3 linked regions of the Homo sapiens genome follow. The protein of the gene in region 3 interacts with the protein of the main gene of each other region in a pairwise test. Each region holds a gene or a part of one and is shown on either strand. Other genes may lie near its edges. The genes, in order: TOLLIP, SPATA31A7 and ODAM.

Region 1 (5,627 bases), on a different chromosome or scaffold from region 3:
GAAGCAGGTTGGGATTTGGGCAGGGGAGGCGGGTCCATCTTTGCTCAGGAGTCCCACGCCCAGGGGTCTTTTCCACAGAAGAACTGATGCCATCAGTCATAGCCACAGAGGTAACGGCTGGAAGTTTGCTGTGGAGTCAACACTGCAGAAAGGCCACATTCAGGTGGAGGCAGGGAACCGGCGGGCATGCCTCGGGGGTTGGGCAGCAGAGAGGGGGCAGACACCCCACCGTGTCCATGGACGCTCCAGCAACGCGTCCGTGCCCGGGTGCCAGGGTGGCTCGGGGTCTCTAGAGTGCTGCTCACATTTATGGGCGCTTTGCTCCCTAAGCATGAGCCAGTCATCACTAGGGGCTCAGACTCCTGAGATGGGGGTGCCACGGTCCCAGTGGGCTCTCTCAGAACGGGGTCGTGTTCCACGCTCACTCCCAGATGGAAATGGCCTGGAAATGAAAAGGCACCACAGAACCACCCAGTGGGGAGAGGGTGCCTGGGCTGGAAGAGCAGACCCACGCCCACTGCCACTGTTGAGGGAGGAGCACCTGGGACTTCCCTCCTCTAATTCAATCTGGGAAGCAAAGGCCAGGCTTGGTCTGAAGGTGTAAGGTTCCTGCTCCCAGTCTGTTGACGAGTGAACTCTGATTCTGACTGATTCGTTACTCCTGCGTATTGTGAATTAAGTTAAAAAATACTCGGGAACAAACATGGTAAACCTTCCCTTAAAGGACTTTATTTCTCTATTTTTATATGGATCATTTATTAAATTAGAAGACTAAAAAGTAAAAATATATTTTACAATCAAAGAAAAATCTGGACAATGGACCCCAGTAAAATAATCAGAAGCGCACGTTCTGAGACCACTCCTGCCTGGCACCCTGCAGGGTAGCGCCCAGGGAGCATCTGCAGAGGGGAGAGGAGAGGAGGGGGAGCCTCCGGCGACCTGTCTTCTATCTCCGGAGCCCCGCCTGAGGCTCCAAGATGGCACAGTCAGGCTGTCCTTAGTGACCGCTGCCACGGAGCTGGCGATCGGCCTGCATCTTCAAACCCAGGAGCAGGAGCAGCAGAGGCTGGCAAGGCCTGGGCCCTCAGACACCAGGGGCCTAAACCCAGCTCCCAAACCCACTGCAGCCTCCCCTTGTGAGCTGGCAGACAAGCCTGTCCTTCTGAGTGTGACGACCTCATCCACACCTGACACAGGCGGGGGCGGGGGAGGGTGGGGGTTGTGAACCAGCTAATTCTGGGGACCGCTCGGAGGGGCTCAGCAAGCTGCTTCTACAGTAAGCCACTTCTACAGTAAGCCTTCAAACAGGAAATAAAGCATAAAATGAAGGAAAGAAGAATCTTATTTAATTAAAGGCCTTGCAAAATGTGATTTGTCTATTAAAAAAATAAAGCGCTTGTGAAAAAGAAAACTAAGAGATGGCGGCAAGCGTGGTCATCGGCAAAGGGTTGCTCTCCCTCCAGCGAGGCTGGCCCCCACTGTGTGGGTCCCTCGGGCCCCCACACGGGCTGCTCAAGGGCTGGCAGCAGGGGCCACGTCCTCTCTAGGAGACACCCACAGAGCCACATGTGCACGCGTGTGGCAGTCTCACTGCACCCCAGCAACGCGAAGGCAGAAACCGGTGCTGGTGGCCACACCTGGGCGCCTGGACACCGAAGCCCCCAGCACAGTGAGGCCTCTGAGTGTGGCTTGTGGTCTGTCCTGGGTTAGAGTTGTTAATATCACGGAACATACCATCTAGAACGTTCCAGTCCCGCCTGACACCTTCATTCCCAATGGAGAAGAAATCTACACAGGCGTAAGACCAGGCCATCTGAGACAGGGAATCCCAGGGGCCCCTCCGTCTGAGTGGTCGGCGTCTGCTGAACAAATACCATGTCTTTCTTCTTCAAAGGATCAAAGGCCTTTAGGACCCACAGCTGAAGAAGGCGCCTGCTGCCAGCATGTCCCTCCCCCACGGCCACCACACACTTCAAGTTTACAAAAATAAATATTTATCAACAGTATATTTGACAAAAACCACCCCCAATCGATGGCAGAAAGCAGTATTTTCTAGCTGGCACTGAAACTTAACCTATTTTTTTGAGGGAGAAAAAGACTAAAATGTAAGCACTAACTTCCTCCTTCTGCATCTTCCACAGAAGACCCACTTGTGGGCATTCTCTTTCTGTCCGTTATCAGTGGGTTTACATCCGAAGGCCGGCGGCAAGACACTTGAACCACAAACACCAGACATGCAGGTGTCTCAATGGCATGCAGATTATTTAAAGTGCATCACTTGTGAGAAGCTTCTCAAATTTCTGACTGTCATAACCAGGTGTCACCTAAAATCTGTCCTGTAGGCCAAGATGCTACACGCAGCGCCCAGGCAGTCAGAGGTAAGTGAGCGCCTCCCGCCTCAGAAAGCTTTTACAGGGCCACGCTCGCCAGGCTTTCCTCGCCCACGCTGAACCCACGTCCTGGGCACAGCAGCTCCCAAGCTGTCAGCAGTCGGCTGGCAGTGCCACCACACCCTCTCGGAATCATGCACAGTGCTGCCTCTATCACCTCTCACCCCAGCCTCGCAAGGCCTGTTGAGAAGAGAAGCTCCCTGGGAGGACACCCACGGAGCTGGCACGAGCGCAGCAGGAGAGACGGACGGCAGCCTCCGGCGGGCGAAGGACCCGGCTTCAGATGCCCGCTGGCTGGCAATCAGGCAGAGCCTGGCCAACCGTGCCAGGCCCCCTTCCTCACTCCAGGTGTGGGTTCATTCTGCCTTCAGGCCGGAGTCTGTCACAAGGCTGGCTGGACAGTGGCCAGGTGAGCCAGGCCAGAGGCCGGCCCCACACCATCCACAGGAAGCTGCTCAGCTCACCAGACCCAAGCCCTGGGCAGGGGCCAGGCTCACAGCAAAGCGCGTTAGGGCAAGGGCGTGAGTTTTCGTCTGGGAAGTTCTAAAAAAAACCCACAGTGTGAGGGATTGTGTGTGCCTTAAATCAACAGCTCTATTCCAATTACATCACATCACAAAATGCCATGAATGGAATCGGAAGGCGCTCCACCACCTCCAACACCCTGGCAGAAGCAGCTGCTCTCTACAGCAAGAGCATTTTCCAGAACGGCATGAGAAGGAGAGACGCACGTCCCAGGGACAGGAGAGCGCGCTGAGACCTCCCAGCACGAGATGGGAGGGGAGCCCCCGCCCCGTCCTGGACCGCCAGGAACCGAAAACCCACATGCACCCAAGAACAGGTGTGGACGGGGCGGCACAGAAGTCCACGGGAGGGGGCGACACGGGTGCTCTTTCACGGGAATCTTGTTGGGACAGCATTCCTTGGGGAGCGCCGGGTCGGCGTGTCCAAAGAGCGGGGGCAAAACGGCATCGAGGCAGAGGCTCTATGGCTCCTCCCCCATCTGCAGCAGGGAGTTGATGGCGGCATCCTTGTTCCCTCGCTGGGCTTCCAGCACGGAGCGGATCACCTCCTGGTCCATGTTGGGGAACATGTCCTGGATGGCTTTCAGGTCCTCCTCGCTACAGCGGGGCTGGGCGTTCACGGCGGCCGGGGGCAGGGCCACGGGCACCATGCCGGGGCTACAGACAGCGGGCATCCCTGGAAGCAAAGATCAAGTTTGGTAAAAACGTCGGAAAGTTCCAGAAGTGCCACACTAGCTCCTGCTGAAGGAAGAAAACAACGCATCCCACCGGCCTCCCTGAGGAAGGGGCCACCTCGGGTCTCAGCAAACACCAGTCCCGCAAGACACCCTGGAAAGGCAAACCCCCAAACAGCAACCCCAGGCACAGCCACGGGGAAGGTGGGCAGGGCCCTCTGTGACGCCTCCTTCACTAACTCATCTTCCTTCCATATAAAAATCAAAGTTTGATCTTTCAAATCTCACCCGAGTCTGTTTTATAACTAGCAGGCTGGGGGTGGTGTTTTGATCCCTTCAGAACTCGTGAATTTGCACTGCACACGCTCGTCTTCACTGACCAGTGGGCTCACAGAGTCCTCTGCATCTGGGGACGGACTACACGGAATGTCACGCCCGCTGATCCAAACACTGCACGGTCTGAGCCTCTTCCTTTATCAGGCATTCTAGAAGATGCTTTTGCAGCTTGGCAAGTGTGTCACTAAACTGTGTGCCGGTGGGGAACAATCACCACAGGCACTGAAGACCTCAGCAAAGCTGCAGCCGATGCCCAGAATGACAACCCCACACACACATACAAACTACACCAAGAAAATGCTCACAAAACTCAAACAAGTGGGGCAGCAGGTGCGGTGTACAGTGGACCCTCAGTGCACTGGGGCCACCGTCCAGGGTTCCTGGCATCTCCACCCCACAGCTACGCAGGCCCCTCGCCCCATGTCTGATGCGGGAGGACACACTGAGATGCAATCTATCGAGCAGGAGACGCACGGCGGTTCAGCCACTGCAGCACACACACCCCTGAAGGCACCGTGTGGCCGGACTTAAGACTCGCCTCCCAGCCTGGTGGCCGCTCCCTAAAACCACGAGCAGCCCTGAGCACAGGCAGCGTGCGCGGGGCTCAGCGACCAGTGAGGCACAGAGCACAGGCAGCGTGCGCGGGGCTCGGCGACCAGCGAGGCACAGAGCTCCTCCTGCAGCAGCAGCTGCAGCAGTGCAAGGGTTCACTGCTCACCCGTTCATTCACCTTTAAAAGCACGAACCATCTCCCAGCTAGGATCACTGGAGCGCTAGAGCCCCAATCTTAGGATAGGACTTTTGTTCCTTTCTACACTTGGAGGATCCTAAAGGCAGCAGAAGCCACTTCAATCCTGGCCTGAACCAACACCAGCAACAAGACCTGCAGGGGTGTAAACGGAGCAGACAGGGCTTGCCACCAAGCCTCCTGCACCTGCTGCAAAGGCCAGGACTCCTCAGCAAGGAAGGCCACCGCTTCCCGGCTCCTTCTAGGCCAGGCCGACTCTTCCTCCACACCCACCCCTGCCTCCTCTGCTTCTCGGCTCTCTCAGGGCCAGGCCCACCTTTCCTCCACACCCACACCTGCCTCTTGTCCTGGCCACTGGACACCTCACCTCACTGGGGAAGCATCATCCCCATGCTCATCAGCCTTTCGGCAATGACGGAAAACGAACCGAACCATGGCCAGGTGGGGACGTGGCCACCCTCACCACCCTTTCTTCTTCCTCAAACAAGACAAAGGCTTGGGCGCTGTCTGTCCTGGAGGGACCCCTGGGATCCCCGTGGCTTTTTGGGCGCCCCGGCTGGCAGGCGGGCAGGAACTTGGCCATCACCTGTCCCTGCCCATACAGCTCCCCACAGCATGGCAACAAGAGGAATGGGGCTCGGCCATCGCCTGTCCCTGCCCACACGTCTCCCCACAGCGTGGCAACATGAGGAACGGAGGCACCGTGCTCCCACTCTCTCCAGCCTTTACCAGTCTGATGGGGAAGGGACAGGAGGAGGGGAACTGCTGCAAAATCGATGACGGTGGCTGTGACGCTGCGACGTCACGGCCTGGGGTGTCCCGAGAAACCTGCTCTGCTGACAATGAGGGGATGTGGCGCCGACTGGCCCTCAAGTGAATCCCAACAGCACGGCCCCAACACACTCACTTGGGGAGCAGGCACCCCCGGGGGAAGAGGTGGGTGCTTCCACGGTGT
Region 2 (8,543 bases), on a different chromosome or scaffold from region 3:
ATGGAAAAGCAGGAGATAGGACTGGGAAAGAAGATTGAAGATGGGCCTGAGCCTCGGCCTGAGCCATAGGTGTGGGCCGGAATTGGGGTGTGGATGAAATAAAGGGTTGGCACTCGGGCCCCAGATGGGACAGGGGCTGGGCCTGGAAAAGCAGTGGGGACATTGTAGTCTCCCTTTGAATTGGGCAGACATTGGACATTTCATTGAACAAGAAAGGAGGAGACTGTAAAGTATAAGACCTGTCAGTTACCCAGGCGTTAGCCACCAGGGACTCGCTGTGCAGAGAGGGGAGGCCCCAGAAAAGCTGGCTATAATTCTTCCAAAAACTTTCCTGCCAGAGCCTAGGATCTGAGAGCTTCTGAGGTCCGGGCAGCTGTTTCGAGTTCTCTCCCATGTTCCAGAAGGGTTTTGGGTTTGTGGTGTCCTGCTCAGCATCCAATGATTTAGCCAAATTCCGCAAATAATTTAAGTGCTTTTCTGGGGTCATTCGATTTGTAAATGATCCAACATTTTCTTTTTCTTCCCAAATGTTGACCTTGGCTGTTTCTGTGACTTGTATCCCCACGACATTCTGGCCATCAGAGCTGAGCAAAAACAGGCTACCAGCTTCCATCTGACAGGTCTCTGGTGGGTGGCGGGAAAGATGATCTTGCTGGACTGATGAGTTAAAGGCGCACGAGGTTCTGGCAGTCTCCTGCCACCGGGAGGAGGCAGAAACATGACTGTTTGAGCCACCAAGGCCTGAGATGGCTGGGACAGAAGCCACCAAATCCTCATGTGGAGACAAGCTTTGAGGGACGGTGCCCAGTGGAAATGCCACTGAGTCACAGTGAGATGGAGTTATCAGTGTGGAGTCCCGCAGGGGAGGAGCAGTGAAGCCTTTTGGAGGAGGCAGAGAGCAGGCCAGAGGATCAGGGGTGTGTGGTGGGTGAGGGAAAAGTGCAGGTGGCTCGGGTGAGGGGTGTTCTAGGGGAAGGGAAGGTTCTGGTGGCTGGGAGGCACTTAGGGAGGAGACTGAGGTGGTCATTGGGCCTGGTGATGGGGTGGAGGCCAGATCCTGAGGATGCTTGGCTTGAGGATCCGGGGAAGCTAACGGGGAGAGAATGGGAGCAGCATCTTCCATAGGCTCATGAGAGGACTGGGAGGCTCCATCAGGTGCTCTTTCACCCACCTCACCTGGGGGGTCTGGACCGGAGAGCTGACCAAAGTCACCTTTGTCAAGGTGTGGCCCCAGGAGGCTGCAGGAGACAGGAGGCACGAGCTGCAGCCAGGAGCCGGTGGGGCCGGAGGGCAGAGTGGGTGCTCGGGCCACAGCCCCTCCACCACCCCACACCCTGATTGCCCAATTCTCCTGCTACCCCTCGCCCCAGGGTTTTACTCCCATCCTCTGTCCCCCTGGTCTCCCCATCCCAGGTCAGCTCCAGGCTGCCTGTGGCCCTGGGGTCACGTCCCAGCCCTGGTAGGAAGGATGCAGGGAAGGGGAAGTGCCTCACCTCTGCAGTTGTGAAAGCAGGTCCGAAGTCTCCTCCAGGCCTCTCGGGCACTCTCTACCAGCTGGAAATCAGGAGACTGGGTTAGGGCAGTGAGGGAGGGGCCTGGGTTCTCACAGGAGGCTGAGTGGCTGTTTCTTTAGGGAGGACCATGGGGAATTAGACCCTGGACCCCACCCATCTGTGTCCAAAGCCACATGACCCCGACGTTAATAGCAAGGCATGGAGGACAAGGCTTTTTCATTCACAAAGGGCTTCCACACACGGACCCCCCACCCCCACAGTCCTCACAACTGCCCTGTGGGGAGAAAGGACTGAGGTGGTCTCAAAGAGGAATCAGCCTTAGCAGAGTTGGACAGCTGTTCCCAGGGAGCGGGAGGCCCCCTCACCCCCCTCCGCATCCAGGCAGGCATTGGTCTCCCCAGGACACACACACTGCCCCCTGCTGGGTAACGCCCAGTCCCTGGCCCACCATGGCTTCATTCCCGCATGGAATCTGAGAAGGACCCGGGGTTCTGATTTCCTTCCTAGGAGCCCCCACCTCAGGCTTCTTCAACTGACTTCTTCAGAGTCAGTTCCCTTCGGGACAGATGAGATCAAATTAACTCTAGTGTGCTCTGGCAGAGCCTTACCTCTCAGACTGTGGTTTTTCATCCTGCCTCTGGGCCTCCGCCTCCGCCCTACTGGACACTGGGAGACACGATGACGTACGGAGACAAGATGACGCAGAGAGACAAGATGACAATGGGAGACAAGAAAGGGTGAGAAGCTAGGACCGGCTCTCCCTCTCTGCCCCAGCCCAGCCGCAGCATGCTGCACTCAGGAACCGCATGGCTCTCTCTGTCTTGCTCAGGGAGCTCTGTGTGCTTCCTCCCACTCTTGTTTAAATGGATGATAAACTGCTTTTCTTCTTAGAAAAACAGCAAGAGGGGGCTGGGCGTGGTAGCTCACGCCTATAATCCAAGCACTTTGGGAGGCCAAGGTGGGTTGATCACCTGAGGTCAGGAGTTTGAGACCAGCCTGGCCATGGTGAAACCCCGTGTCTACTAAAAATACAAAAATTAGGCAGGCATGGTGGTGGGCGCCTGTAATCCCCAGCTATTCAGGACTCTAAGACAGGAGAATCGCTTGAACTCAGGAAGCAGAGGTTGCAGTGAGCCGATATCACTCCATTTCACTGCAACCTGCACCACAGAGCGAGACTCCATCTCAAAAAATAAAATAAAATAAAATAAAATAAAATAAAATAAAATAAAATAAAATAAAAATAACACACACAAATAAAATAAAAATACACACACACACACACACACACACACACACACAGAGGGATTTTCAATATGAGGTCCACCACGGACACCTTCAGTCCCTGTTCCTCTGCTCCAGGAACACCCAAGTTCAGGCCCGCAGGCACTGCTGAGCTATCAGGTAGGATTCTGCTTCCCAGAAGACCAGAGGAGACACCAGGCCCTGGTGGGAGGCCCTCAGGGGCCCAGCACAGGCCCCAGATCACCCCACACAGGGGAGGCTGGGCCCTGAGCCACCTGCACCAGAAAGGGGCTGATGAGCCAGGGCTCAGGGCCTGGTCTCGGACAGAGACCTCCCCAGTCTCATGACTGGTACTGGTGCTGAGTCCACTGGTTTGATTTTGCCTTGATGCCTCCTGTGCTCCCCCACAGATGGACTGAGAGCTTGGGATGGAAATCCCAGTACACTATCTACCCCTACCAACCCCTGGCTGCCCTGCCTCTCCCTGGAAGGATGATGTTCTGGTCTCTTCTGAGACTTCCCATCATAGAAGGCTCTCCACTGGATTTGGAAAAGTGGAACTAATAATAAAAAGAAAGGAGAGAATCAAGCTCTGTGGGTTGGGACTGAGGGTTCCTTACCTTTCTCTTCCCAGGCGATGGTGAGGGTGGGTCATCACAACGGAAGTAAGATAAGTAGGGGAGTAATAGGAAGAAGAACCCCAGGGCAAACACCAAAGTGAGGAAGATATCCAACACCCATGGTGTGGAACTGGGGGCGTTTAGCGATGAGGCACTAAGTAATTTTAAAGGAAAGGGAAGATTCTCCATGTGAATAGGCGCGTTGCTTTCAAGCAACTGAGCTCTGGGCATCCCCGTGGGGACTAGGGACTGGGGCCCAGGCCTGCGTCACAGAGGTGGGGCCTTGATGTCACAAAGGGCTCCTTTGTTGGGGAGGGGCAGTGGGAGGGGGAGGCGCAGAGGGAGGGGGAGGTGCAGCAGGAGGGGGAGAGGGAGGGAGAGGGGCAGGGGAGGGGGAGACTGAAGCACAGCCCCTCCCCACCCCCCAAGCTGGGGATCCCTCCACCATCCCACCTTCTAGATCCCTCCTTCCCACTAAGTTTTGTCAGTGATAGCCAATTTTCTATTCTTTCTCCCTGGAATATAGATATTACCTGGTTCCTTTTATCTGTTGGAGACGGTGGCTTGAGGTTACCTATTTTATAGCCCTTGAAAATCTGAAGTTCTGAAATTTTGGCTATGTACCAGGGATTTTTATTCTCAGAATCTCGTTCATCCTCAACTCCAGCTTTTCCACACTATGTTTTTGTCTTGTATCAATCCAGGGACAAAATGTAAATTTCTTTTACTCTTATTTAGTTTTGCAAATTTTGAATAGTAAGTTTTAAAAAATTATTTCTATCTCACTTTCAATCAAAGGGAACTACCCACATACAATTAAGATTTTTTTTTTTGTCTTTTAAAATTTTATTTGTGTACTTATGTATTTATTTTATTTTAACTTTCGGGATACATGTGCAGGACATGCAGTTTTCTTACATAGGCAAATATGTACCATGGTGATTTGCTGCACCTATCAACCCATCACTTAGGTATTAAACCCAGCATGCATTAGCTATTTTTCCTGATGCTCTCCCTACCACCGGCCCTCCCTCGACAGGTGCCAGGGTGTGTTGTTTCCCTCCCAGTGTCCATATGTTCTCATTGTTCGGCTCCCACTTGTAAGTGAGAACATGTGGTATTTGGTTTTCTGTTCCTGTGTTAGTTTGCTGAGGATAATGGCTTCCAGCTTCATCCATGTCCCCGCAAAGGACTTGATCTCATTCCTTTTTATGGCTGCATAGTATTCCATGGTGTATATGTACCACATTTTATTTATCCAGTCTATCATTGGTGGGCATTGGGTTGATTCCATGTCTTTGCTATTGGGAACAGTGCTGCAATAAACATACACGTGCATGTATCTTTGTAATAGAATGATTTATATTCCTTTGGATATGCAATAATGGTATATCTGCCACAGCCTCTGTACTGCACTGTGGGGAATTCTGCCCAGCGCAAACCACCCAGTCTCCCTAGCACTGGTGGGGGAAAACCACCGGCTAGACCCGCAGTAATGGCGGTCACCCTTCCCCCCAGGAACTTGGTCTTCTTAGGCAGACTCCAGGTGCTGTGCTAGCCAGTGGGGATTCCATGCCAGTGGGTCTTAGCTTGTGGGGTTCTGTGGGAGTGGGTCTGCTTGGCTCCCTGGCTTCAGCCCTCTTCTCATGGGAGTTGATGGATCTCCTGCTTCACTGGATTTCTGCGAGCCACCAGAGTACGCAGAAACTCCTACAGCTCAGTACCTGCCCAAGTGGCTGCCAGCTGGAGCCCCTGCTATGGGTCTGCACAGCTTTGTGCTTGGGACCCAAGGCCCTGGTGGTGTGGACTCACAAAGGGATTACCTGTTCTGGGGTTTGCAAAAATCTGTGGGTAAAGCACAGTTCTCCGGGTGGGTAGCACAATCCCTCACTGCCTCCCTTGGCTGGAGGAGGGAGGTCTCTTTGCCCTGTGTAGCTCTTGGGTGAACTGTCGCCCAACTCTGCTTTTCCTTGCTCTCCATGGGTCACACCAACTGCCTAGTCAGTCCCAATGAGGGAATCTGGATACCTCAGTTAGAAATGCAGAATTCACTCGCTGTTTATGTTTGTCTCAGTGGGGGCTGTAGAGTAGAGCTGTTTCTACTCAACCATCTTGGCCCCTCCCCCCAATTAAAATAATTAATATTCAAAATTTGTAATTCTAATTATGAAACAGTTATAAGTAGTTAAACCTTCAAGTGGTATTTCTGTAAATGTGTAGCATTTACAGTTCTGGACTTGGTAATGCTTAAAGTGCACGATAACTTATGGGACTGCTACATAGGCATACCTCAGAGATACTGTGGGTTTGGTTTCAGGCCACTGTGGAGATGAGCTCTTTAGGGCAGTGCCCAATGGAAGTGCCATTGAGTCACATTGAGACGGAGTCAGAATGCAGTCCAGCAGTGGGGGAGCAATGAAGGCTTTTGGAGGAGGTGGAGGGCAGGCCAGACAATGGGGGTGGGTATGATGGGTGAGGGGAAAATGCAGGTGGCTTGGGTGAAGGGCGTTCTAGGGGAAGGGAAGATTCTGGTGGCCAGTTCTGCAATAAAACAAATATGGCAATAAGGCAAATCACACAGAATTTTTGGTTTCTCAGTGCATATAAAAGTTAGGTCTATACTATACTGTAGTCTATTAAGTGGGCAATACCATTATGTATAAAAAAGTCAATGTACATACCTTAGTCAAAAATTATTTTACTGTTTAAAAATGCTATCGATCACCTGAGTCTTCAACATCATGATCTTTTTGCTGGTCAGTGGCCTTGCCTCAGTGTTGTGGCTGCTGACTCATCATGGTGGAAGCTGCTGGAGGTGAGGTGGCTGTGGCAATTTCTTAAAATAAGACAACAATGAAGTTTGCTACATCAGTTGACTATTTCTTTCAAGATTCCTCTGTAGCATGCAATGCTGTTTGACAGCATTTTACCCACAGTAGAGCTTCCTTCAAATCGGAGACAATCCTCTCAAACCCTGCCACTGCTTTATCCACTAAGTTTATGCAATTTTCTAAATACTCTGTTGTCATTTCAACAAGGTTCACAGCATCTACACCTGGAGTAGTTTCCATCTCAAGAAACCACTTTCTTTGCTCATCCAAGTTCTCATTTGTTAAAATTTTGTCATGAGATTTCAGCAATTCAGCCACATCTTAAGTTCTCTTCACATCTTTTAATCTTAGTTCTCTTGCCATTTCCACCACGTCTGCAGTTACTTCTTGCACTGAAGTCTTGAACCCTCAAAGTCATCCATGAGGATTGGAATCAACTTCTTCCAAATTTCTTTTAATATTGATATTTTAACCTCCTCCCATGAATCACAAATGTTCTTAATTTTAACCTCCTCCCATGAATTGCAAATGCTTCTAGAATGGTGAAACCTTTCTAGAAGGTTTTCAACTTACTTTGCCCAGATCTATCGAAGGAACTACTATACATGGTGGCTACAGCCTTATGAAATGTATTTCTCAGATAATCAGCCTTGAAAGTCTAAATTACTCATTGATCCCTGGGCTGCAGAATGGATGTTGTATTAGCAGGCATGCAAACAGCTTTAATTTTCTTGTAGTTCTCCATCAGAGCTCTTGGGTGACCAGGTAAATTGTCAATGAACAATAATATTTTGAAAGAGATCTTTTTTTAAAGCAGTAGTTCTCAGGTGTGAGCTTAAAATATTCATGTCGTAACAGATGTGATGTCATTCAGGCTTTGTCCCATTTATAGAGCACAGGCAGAGTAGATGTAGCATAGTTCTTAAGGGCCCTAGAATTTTCAGAATGGTAGATGAGCTTTGGCTTCAGCTTAAGCCCCTAACAAAAGAGTCATCCTGTTCTTTGAAGCATTGAAGTCAGGCATTTATTTTGCTACCTGGCTGTAAAAGTCCTGGATGACATCCTCTTCCAATATAAGGCTGTTTTATCTGCAATAAAAAGCTTTGTTTAGTGTAGCCACCTTTGTTGCTTCTCTTAGCTGATCTTATGGATGACTTGCTGCAGCTTCTACATCAGCACTTGCTGCTTTTCCTTGCACTTTTATCTTATGGAGAAGACTTCTTTCCTTAAACCTCATGAACCAATCTCTGCTAGCTTCAAACTTTTTTTCTGTGGCTTCCCAACCTCTCTCAGCCTTCAGAGAATTAAGAAGAATTAGGTCCTTGCTCTCGATTAGGGTTTGGCTTAAGGAAATGTTGTGGTTGGTTTGATCTTCTATCCAAACCACTCAAACCTTCTCCATATCAGCGATAAGTCTCTTTCACTTTCATACCACTCATGTGTTCATTGGAGTAATACTTTTAATTTCCTTCAAGAACTTTTTCTTTTCATGCACAGTTTGGCTGTTAGGTGCAGGATGCCTAGTTTTTGGCCTGTTTCAGCTTTTAACATGCCTTCCTCACTCACCTTAATCATTTCTCACTTTTGATTTAAATAAGAGATGTGTGACTCTTACTTTCACTTGAACACATAGAGGCCTTTGTAGAGTTATTAATTGGCCTAATTTCAATATTCCTGTGTCTCAGAAAACAGGGAGACCTGAGGAGTTGGGGGGATGGAGGAAGGGCAGATCGATGGAACCATTCAGACACACATATGTATCAATTAGGCTCATTGTCTTTTGGAGCATGGTTTGTGATGCCCCAAAACAATGACAATAGTAATATCAATGATCACTGATCACACATTACCGTAACAGATATAATAATAACAAAACATTTGAAATATTGCAAGAATTACAAAAATGTAACACAGAGATACAAAATAAGCACATGCTACCAGAAAAGTGGCACTGGTAGACTTGCTTGATGCAGGGTTGCCATAAACCTTCAACCTGTAAAAAATGCAATATCCAAGAAGCATAATAAAGTGAAGTGCAATAAAACAAGGTAAGCTTGTATATGTATGCATGCACACACCAGTACGCATCCACCTATCCACACACAAATCTTTGTACAAACAAATCCTGTATTTTCAATTCCAACAATACATCATTTGCACCTTAAAAATATCTGTCAACCTTGTAGTATCTTTTCTGTCTTTGTTATCAGGGTAATGCTGGCCTCATAAAAAATGTTTGTATTCCCTCCTCTTCAACTTTTGGAAGAGTTTGTGAAGAAATGGTACTAATTCTTCTTTAAACATTTGCTAGACTTCTCCACTAAGCTATCTGG
Region 3 (8,757 bases):
GAAGCAGCTGCCCTAGATTGAGTAATCTGGGAACATTCTTCTGTGGAGTGATACCTAAAATGAGATATAAATTATAAGAATCCACCAGCCCCTCACTAATTGGAGGCAGCGCATTCCAGGCATAGGGAACAGCAGGTGAAAAGGCCTTAAAGAGCAATGCATTTAACATATTCAAAACTCAGAATGAAAGCTAGTGAGGTTGCAGCTTAGTGAATAAGGAGAAGAATGAGAAGTCATGAAGTGGAAGAATAAAGCAAAGGCCAGATCACTGAGGACTTTGTAAACCAGGTTTAAAAAAAAAAAAAGTGTCTGTTCATGTCCTTCACCCACTTTTTGATGGGGTTGTTTGTTTTTTTCTTGTAAATTTGTTTGAGTTCATTGTAGATTCTGGATATTAGCCCTTTGTCAGATGAGTAGGTTGCGAAAATTTTCTCCCATTTTGTAGGTTGCCTGTTCACTCTGATGGTAGTTTCTTTTGCTGTGCAGAAGCTCTTTAGTTTAATTAGATCCCATTTGTCAATTTTGTCTTTTGTTGCCATTGCTTTTGGTGTTTTAGACATGAAGTCCTTCCCCATGCCTATGTCCTGAATGGTAATGCCTAGGTTTTCTTCTAGGGTAAGAGGAAAATAATTGAAATAGGAGATAAGGGGAGAAGGAGGAGAAAAAGGAAGAGAAGCAAATGGAAAAAGGGAAGGAGAAAGGAGTGGAGAATAAGAAAGAAAGACAAGATAGCAATTTTTTTGTTTTTTGTTTGTTTGTTTTTTGTTTGTATTTTTAGTAGAGAAGGGGTTTCACCAGACAAGATAGCAATTTTTTTGTTTTTTGTTTGTTTGTTTTTGGTTTTTTTATAGCAAATTTTTTGAAGAGTAGAATAAAATACATTGCTATCAGAAAGCATAACATCTTATCAAGGAGATAAACTTTTAATGCAACAAAATGGAAAAAGATTATCACCAGAAGTCTGAGGGAGAACTAAGGCAGACTGGGCAATGTATTACTCCCCTTGACTAGGACATTCATAAGAGAGTCCCCTCACCACACCACAGGCTTTGCTAAATGTTTGGGAAGGAGGAGAAAGCCTGATATTGGCCAAACATTGTGGACTTCCTCCCTCATGACATCAATCATAGGCAAGTTACCAGAACCATAAAATTTTGTTTAAAATTGAGTTGTTTAATGACGTGTTTTGTTTCTCCAAAAAGTTGTAGTACAAAAACTGGGTTAAGGCCAAACTGATTGCAGGCCCCAAACAAAGAAACAGATGCAGGAGTCATTAAAATGGTAAGGATGGAATTCACAAAGCAAAAGGCAAAATAAATACTATAGAGGTTTAGTACAGAAAGAAACTCTTTCAGGTCAAGGGACAAAAGAAATTACTTTCAGAGAAAGTGGATGTTGATTTACACCCAGGCTAGAACAAGCTGTATTTGAGAGACATGTCTCCCATTGCATACTTGACTTGCCACACTTCAGGGAATCGCTGAAAGTTGACCATTTCTAGCCCAAACTTAGCTGTGTGCTGGCCTCTCTCAACTACTCTGAAACTTATGAATTCCTTCTTATGAAAGGAAGAGGTATATTCTTTTATTTTTCTTAACACCTTTATATCTAAGCCAACACTCCTGGAAATTATAGCCATAATTCACATACACATACCTACAAATCTTAAATATAATAAAATAGACTCACCTCATCAAGCTAGAGTTACTAAGCTAGGACATACTGTCATAGTGGACATGGGATGATTAGTATCCAATAATGTACAATATCAAATAGAAGGGATTACTTTAGTAAAGTCTCATGGTAGTTAACAGAAAACACCCAATGTAATAGAAGAGATTTAGTTGACAGCTTGCTGATTCTCTGTATTTACTGCTCGAGTTATAATTTTTTTGTTAATTGTCTTTATTATGGTACTATGTCTTTCTCCTCTCTAGTTAGGCATCTGGGTGCTTTGAGATAGAACTACATAATTGAGAATCAAAAGACCTGAATTCTAGCCACAAGTCTGGTACCTTCTGAAAGTGTGAAAAAAACTGTAATGTCCATGAAGGTAAAAACTATTTGTATTAACATTAGCACTAAGTTCTGAATGCCTAGCAAGGATATGGACTATAGAAGTTGTGCAACAACTATTTCTTGTATAAATAAACTAATTCATTAATGAATGAAGTCACTGAACCTTCTGTACTTCAGTTTTCTCGTTGAAGCATGAGGGTGATATATACATATCTTGCCTACCTTGATATATCATTAGAAGTCCCTGGGAAATTACAGCTCAGGTGGAAGAAAATTATTTTAAGAAGCGATAAAATTTAAATTCAGTTGTCATGATCCACAGAACATTGCTCTGCTTTACAATGGCACTCTGTTAAGCCTTGATTGATTTTTCAGGATAGTTGAAGGAAAAGAGAGCAGGGATAACATTTTGAAAGCACTAATTTACAAACCACTGTTGTTTACTTTTCATCATCTATGTTACTGGAACAGAACAAAGATATAGATGGTACATAATTCAACAGTCATGTGTACTTGGCATTAGAATATGTTTTTGTACTTTTATTTGAATGGAGGGTTGTCTGGTGTTCTGGTAATTGAACTAAACCAAAATAATGAAGTTATAATGATGACATCAGGTTCCGGATTTCCTCATCTTAGGTCCCTGCAACTTAATCCATACAGACTCACATTGCTCTGGAATTAGACCACCTTTTTTTCTTCCCTGAATGAAGAAACCATTTATTTAACAAAACTTAGGGGAATACCTATTTTGTGACTGACACAGGAATAGATAATGAGTATATTCAACCTAGTTGAATGGAAGAAACAGACATATACAATATCCACACTACAACGTGATGAAAACTAGAGTCCCTTGCTACTTCCCCTCCTAGCTAGAGATAACTTTGCCTCCAATGACACAGGTTCTTGAAAGCTATCAGATAATAAAGCATAGCCTGTTCTTTTTCACTTCAACTGCTGAATAACTGGAGAGTTTCAATTGCTTTTCTTTAAATACTCAGGTAATGAAAAATAAAAACAAAAAGAACGCAATGACGGAAGTCTTCCAATTGTCTCCAGAGTTGAGGAATATAGTTAGATAAACAATTCACCATCAGAATAATTTTTAAATTGACTGTGTTTTTCACTCTATAATCCAGTTGCTGACCTTTCCAGTGCTTGGTCTTGACAATTTTCTGGCTCAGTAGTGGGGTTAGCTGGCTAAGACCCTGCAGCCTGCAATAGAAAATAGTCTCTCAAGAGAATGAGAGCTTATGGCGTATTTAATTTGACAATATTCAGAATAGACCAAAGTCATTAATTGTAAATATATATCATCATGCAATACAGAACCTTCCTCCTAGTTCACTCATTCAACAAATCTACTGCATTTTCCAGGCAACAATTGGTTACATTAACGACCTTTATGTTTAAGCTTTAGTTAAATCTGCCATTAACATCTAGGGTTGTCTAATTTTTTAGTTAATCTAAGAAGACCACTATCACAAATCTCAGGAAAGTTACTTTTGCTAAAAGAAAAACTTTCAGCAAATTAAATTTAACAGAATTTAATTGAGTAAAGAATGATTTGCAAATCAGGCAGCCTGGAATAAAAATACATTCAGAGTGACTCCGGAGCTGCCACGTGGTCAAATAACATTTATGGACAGAAAAGGAAAACGGTGTACAGAAAATGGAAATGAATTACAGAAACAGTGAGTTGGTACCCGTTGCAGCTCTGCAATTGCCTTATTTGAACACATTTGAACAGTTGGCTGCTTGTGATTGGCTGTCACTCAGCTTCTTGTTAAAACAGTAGGTTACAGTTTGTTTAACATCATTAGGTTACAGTTCACTATTATAAGAAATCTTTAGGTCAAACTTAAAATATGTATGGAGGCAGCTTTAGGCTAAACGTAATTCAATTTAATACTTTCTAATAGATATAAAGTCCTACTGGTGGGTTTTCTTCTTTAGTAAAGAAAAATGTCTTTTTATTCTAACTAATGATTTATGTACTTGGATTTTTTGACCAGATAAATAACAAATAGTATAATTATTTTAGTATTAATGAGCCATGCAAGCTCTGTCTCATTCTACCAAAAAAGACAAATGTATTAAAAGGCAATAATTTTGTTTTCCTGCATAAGACTATCATGAGTTGCTCAAGATTAAGTTAGCTAAAAAGAACTCTTCCATAATAAAAATTAATTGATAATACATTGTCAAAACACTTGTGATCCTGAACTATTAGAGGGGAGTCGATATTAACAACAAAAAAACTACAAATAAACACAAAACTCCCATTATGAAGGAAATTTAAATAATAACAATGTGCAGAGAGTAATAGTTGTATTTTGAATATTAAAATATATAACAAAAACATTTTTCAATAAAAACATGTATTCACGGCTATTTTTTAAAATGTAGGATATCATGCTTTATACTTATTAAATTATTTATTTCAAGCAACATGATCATATACAAATACATTTCATAGACACATGGAAATTTAGCAATTTTTTAAGGACTGCATTCAGTAAGTAGAGGGAGAATAACTGATGTTTTCAAGGTCAAATCTAAAGGAAACTAGCCCACATTTACTTAGCCCAGCATTGAGGAAGCAAAGAATTCTGCTAAGTAGGCTTTGAAGTTTTGCTTTTCAGACCTATGATTCCTAACAATTCTGTATTTCGCCCTTGAAGTAAAAATAATCACCCATTTATCCTTGACTTTATTAAAGATATTAACTTTTATTCAGTTACAGTATCCAGTTTTATTCAATTAGAGTATCCAGTTTAAGAATTATAAAAGAGTAGAATAGAATTATTCTAGGAGAATTATTCTAGGAGAATTACTCATAACCAAACCAGAAGCCAGAAATGATCACAGGAAAACATTTCTCAGGGGATAATTTAATAACATTACTAAAAGTGTGGGAATCCATATACCACCTAAATGATTAGGAAAGAGGTTATTAGCTAAGCCATTGTCTGAAACCCACTGAATCACTGGTCCTTTTTGAACAATGATTGGTCCTTTTTTTCTAAAGATGAGTTTTAAAATTTAAGAGAAGTGCCAAGCAGTAGAGCTGAGAGAGGAAAAGAACACAGATCTCGCATGGTTCAGATTTTTCTTTTTAGGTCCAGGAGTAAGGTAAGATATCAAATCTTTGCTTTTATAGTTTGAAGAACCAAAATCAGTGAAATCTGCAGGATAGACTATCAAGTTCACCCTAAATGCTTGATTAGGTCAATGATTTGAAGCAGGGAAAAAAGTTTCACATCTAGAAGACAAGAGAAATATACTTAAACAGGTTACACCATAAATCAATATCACAGTTCAGTTTTATAATCTATTGCCATAAATTACAAAAACATTGACTCAGTTGCTTAGTTCTAGTATATTATTCTGTTATTAGACTACTAAGTGGAAATTATCTGGTATTGGACTGGTATTGTCAAATCTCTATTGAAGTACTTTTCAACATAGACATTAAAATTGCTGCAGTAATAAGTCCCTAGTTGGTTAGCCTTAGTCATGACCTCCCATGGTCTGATGGGCCTGCTCCTCTCCTTGTAGGGCAGCACTAGGAGGAGATCATCTTGTTCTTTAATGCATTCAACCACATCATATGTCTCCAAATGAGTATTTTGTTCAAGCTAAAAGGACAAGCAAACAATCTTGGTTTTTATAAACAGCTTGTCTGAGAGAAAATAAAGAGTTATATCAGAAATTTACAAACATAACTTTTTAAATTTTAAATTGCAAAATGTAAGTAAATACTATAGAATTCACCCAGCTATTCCTTTGATTGAACAATACTAATTATTTTGTCATGAATTTTAAGTAATGTCTTTATAAAGCTAAAGATCACAACTTATTTTCTAGATATATCATACGAAAATGAAAATTATAATTCTTCTTGGATTCCTGGGAGCCACATTGTCAGCCCCAGTAAGTGATTTTATGGCACTACTAGTCCCACTGTGTTAAACCTTCAACAATCCCTTCTTTTTACTATTTCTGATTTTTTTTTCATTTTTACTTTTAGCTTATCCCACAGCGTCTCATGTCTGCCAGCAATAGCAATGAGGTTAGTTTAAATAATTAAAACAATCTCCTCCTTTTTTTAATGGAAATCAAGTGGGAAGAGATAGAAGTCGTCATTTAATTTATACTGTGTTCCTCACCACTAGCTTTTATGTATATCCAAGCACATTTCTAATGTCCATGTTTGATTATATAACAGGTTACCTCTAAAATATTATTCTGCTTCCCTTGATTGATTGTTAATTCTTCAAAGGCGGATACAATATTGTTTATATCTTTTTGTTCTAATAACACCTCACACAGGTGTATATAGGTGTTTAAAAACATAAAATGACTAAACCACTGGAATGTGCTAACGTTGTGCAATCTCATACCCAACAGAGGAGAGGTTGTTAAATCCCAACCTTGTTTTAAATCTAACTTCTAATCACTGTAATTTAATGTAAGCCTAGTGAGAAAATGTCCCACTTCTAACAAGAAATTGAGCAACCAGCTATGACTTGTGCTATATTTGCAGTAAACATTGTTCCTACTCATTTTAGTGTGTAGTAATCTTGATTTCATATTATTTTTCTTTTTCTAGTTACTTCTTAATCTTAATAATGGTCAACTTTTGCCACTACAACTTCAGGTACCTCCATTTCAATAATTACTTTATGGGGAATATTTACCTATTGCTCATTTATGTTATTTTGTAAGAAAACAAAATGTTTCCTGATCCTATTTTGGAAATCTCAGTTTTTAACATTATGAATTTGTCTCATATGTTCTAGTGGCCATTTGCTTGAAGATTAAAGTAAAAACTGTAATTTGAACAACACTTATTTATTGAGAACTTGGTATATGCCAGGCACTAATTCTCACAACTATGAGATAGTTAAAAGTAATTATTTTACAAAAAGTCATGCCCAGTTAACCAGTAACAGCAGGTTGGCAGGTTTAGGGTTAAGGTAGGGGAAAATACAGACGGTTTAAAACCAGTGTGGCATATGCAGATGTTGGGCTCTTTTATCAACCTTATCCTGCCCCATATTTCTCATGGCCATCGGGAATTTAGCATTTGCTTCGTATTATTTGCTTGGTTCAAAATGAATCAAGATGCTGTCCTTTTTTATGTTGCAACATTGGAACTATAGAAATTGTTTGTATTTTGCCTCTTTCTTGCTCAGGACTAATTTTTAAATTCTTTTTGGCATGAAGGGAACATGCTTTCTTTCCTTTGTGTCTTTTTAGGGCCCACTTAATTCATGGATTCCACCTTTCTCTGGAATTTTACAACAGCAGCAGCAGGCTCAAATTCCAGGACTCTCCCAGTTCTCTTTATCAGCTCTAGACCAGTTTGCTGGACTGCTCCCAAATCAGATACCCTTAACAGGAGAGGCCAGTTTTGCCCAAGGAGCCCAGGCAGGCCAAGTTGATCCCTTACAGCTTCAAACACCGCCTCAGACACAACCAGGCCCCAGTCACGTAAGTCAGGCCTCTTTCATTTTGTTCTGAGGAGAGAGAACTGCATGTTTAATCTGACAATGAATATGAATCAGCTTTGAAATAGGCAGGGGTTTTTGAACAATATTTTTTCTCATTATATGTTTCTACCATCGCTGTAAGTTCTTTCTTTTATTTTCTGATTTCTAAGACAAAAAATATTTAAATCAGCTACTCTAGGATACAGCAACAAGCCAAAAAAGTTAAAAACAAGTCTAGGATAAGATAGGAAAACTTCAATAATAGGCAGTTTATGTCAGCACATGTAACGGATGACTTTTTGTTGTGGAAACTTGTTAACACAAAGGATAAATTTATATGGCTAGCTCTAGGAAAAGCAGCTCAGGGATTTTTAAATAACAAAGTCAAGCATACATTTTTATATAATTCTTTTTTTTGGCAGGTGATGCCCTATGTATTCTCCTTCAAAATGCCTCAAGAGCAAGGACAGGTAAATGGATATAACAACACTGCCCATAGAGATGGCTACATACACTCTCCACAATGCTTTCTATTTCTAGCTCTGACTCCTATAGCAGGGCTATAAAAACCTATATAATGATATCACTGTCTAGATAACATCATTGCTGGGCTAGTATCAGTTTGTTGATGTTGGGCTCACTTAACAACTCCTTAAGGACAGGCAGCTAAGTAGAGTCTCCAGGACCCCTGAATTTCCAGGGCATTGCTATGTTGAGAGTAAAAGAGCTCAGTAAGCCCCAGGTCATGTCCTCTCTGCATCCAAAGTGCTGGAAGTTGGGAAAAACTCAAGAGAAATACCATGGGCTGACTTTATCCAAATTTAAATTTTGCTTCAGAAGGAGATGCACTAAGCTGATAATATATGATATGATGTAGAGATAAGAAACACTTGCCCATGTTATTTGGCTGTTATGAAATTCTGCTCAAAACATTTTAAGCTTCTTATACATTTCCAATTTGAATCCATATTACAATCAAATGGTAATTTTTTCCATTAAATAGGATAATCTTTTAAAAATGAATGCAAACTAGTATAATCATCATATTAATATGGAAAACCCTATAAATATCAGGATTATTAATTTTACAATATTCTGGGTTCAAAGAAACAGTATTATAAATAAATTATATTACTCATCACAGAATATTGGCCTTTTCATAAAAAGTTACAGCATTTGACTCTACTGTAATTATAACTAAATAACTTTGTCCCACATCCACTCCCATTATAAAACA

Evidence for each region.
Region 1: the proteins of ODAM (region 3) and TOLLIP interact in a two-hybrid assay, tested with the Homo sapiens proteins (2 studies listed by BioGRID and IntAct).
Region 2: the proteins of ODAM (region 3) and SPATA31A7 interact in binary tests that used the Homo sapiens proteins (3 or more experiments, as listed by UniProt).

Annotation. Positions count from the first base shown.
Region 1 is NC_000011.10:1,273,664-1,279,290, forward strand, and holds the end of TOLLIP (toll-interacting protein), read right to left. Parts: intron 3,591-5,627; coding exon 3,376-3,590; 3' UTR 708-3,375; downstream 1-707. UniProt on the Homo sapiens protein: Component of the signaling pathway of IL-1 and Toll-like receptors. Inhibits cell activation by microbial products. Recruits IRAK1 to the IL-1 receptor complex. Inhibits IRAK1 phosphorylation and kinase activity.
Region 2 is NC_000009.12:61,185,090-61,193,632, reverse strand, and holds the start of SPATA31A7 (spermatogenesis-associated protein 31A7), read right to left. Parts: upstream 3,598-8,543; 5' UTR 3,569-3,597; coding exon 3,380-3,568; intron 2,181-3,379; coding exon 2,123-2,180; intron 1,555-2,122; coding exon 1,494-1,554; intron 1,239-1,493; coding exon 1-1,238. UniProt on the Homo sapiens protein: May play a role in spermatogenesis.
Region 3 is NC_000004.12:70,190,637-70,199,393, forward strand, and holds the start of ODAM (odontogenic ameloblast-associated protein isoform 1 precursor), read left to right. Parts: upstream 1-5,088; 5' UTR 5,089-5,121; coding exon of another isoform or gene 5,122-5,157; intron 5,158-5,892; coding exon of another isoform or gene 5,893-5,907; coding exon 5,908-5,958; intron 5,959-6,055; coding exon 6,056-6,097; intron 6,098-6,637; coding exon 6,638-6,685; intron 6,686-7,287; coding exon 7,288-7,521; intron 7,522-7,942; coding exon 7,943-7,990; intron 7,991-8,757. UniProt on the Homo sapiens protein: Tooth-associated epithelia protein that probably plays a role in odontogenesis, the complex process that results in the initiation and generation of the tooth. May be incorporated in the enamel matrix at the end of mineralization process.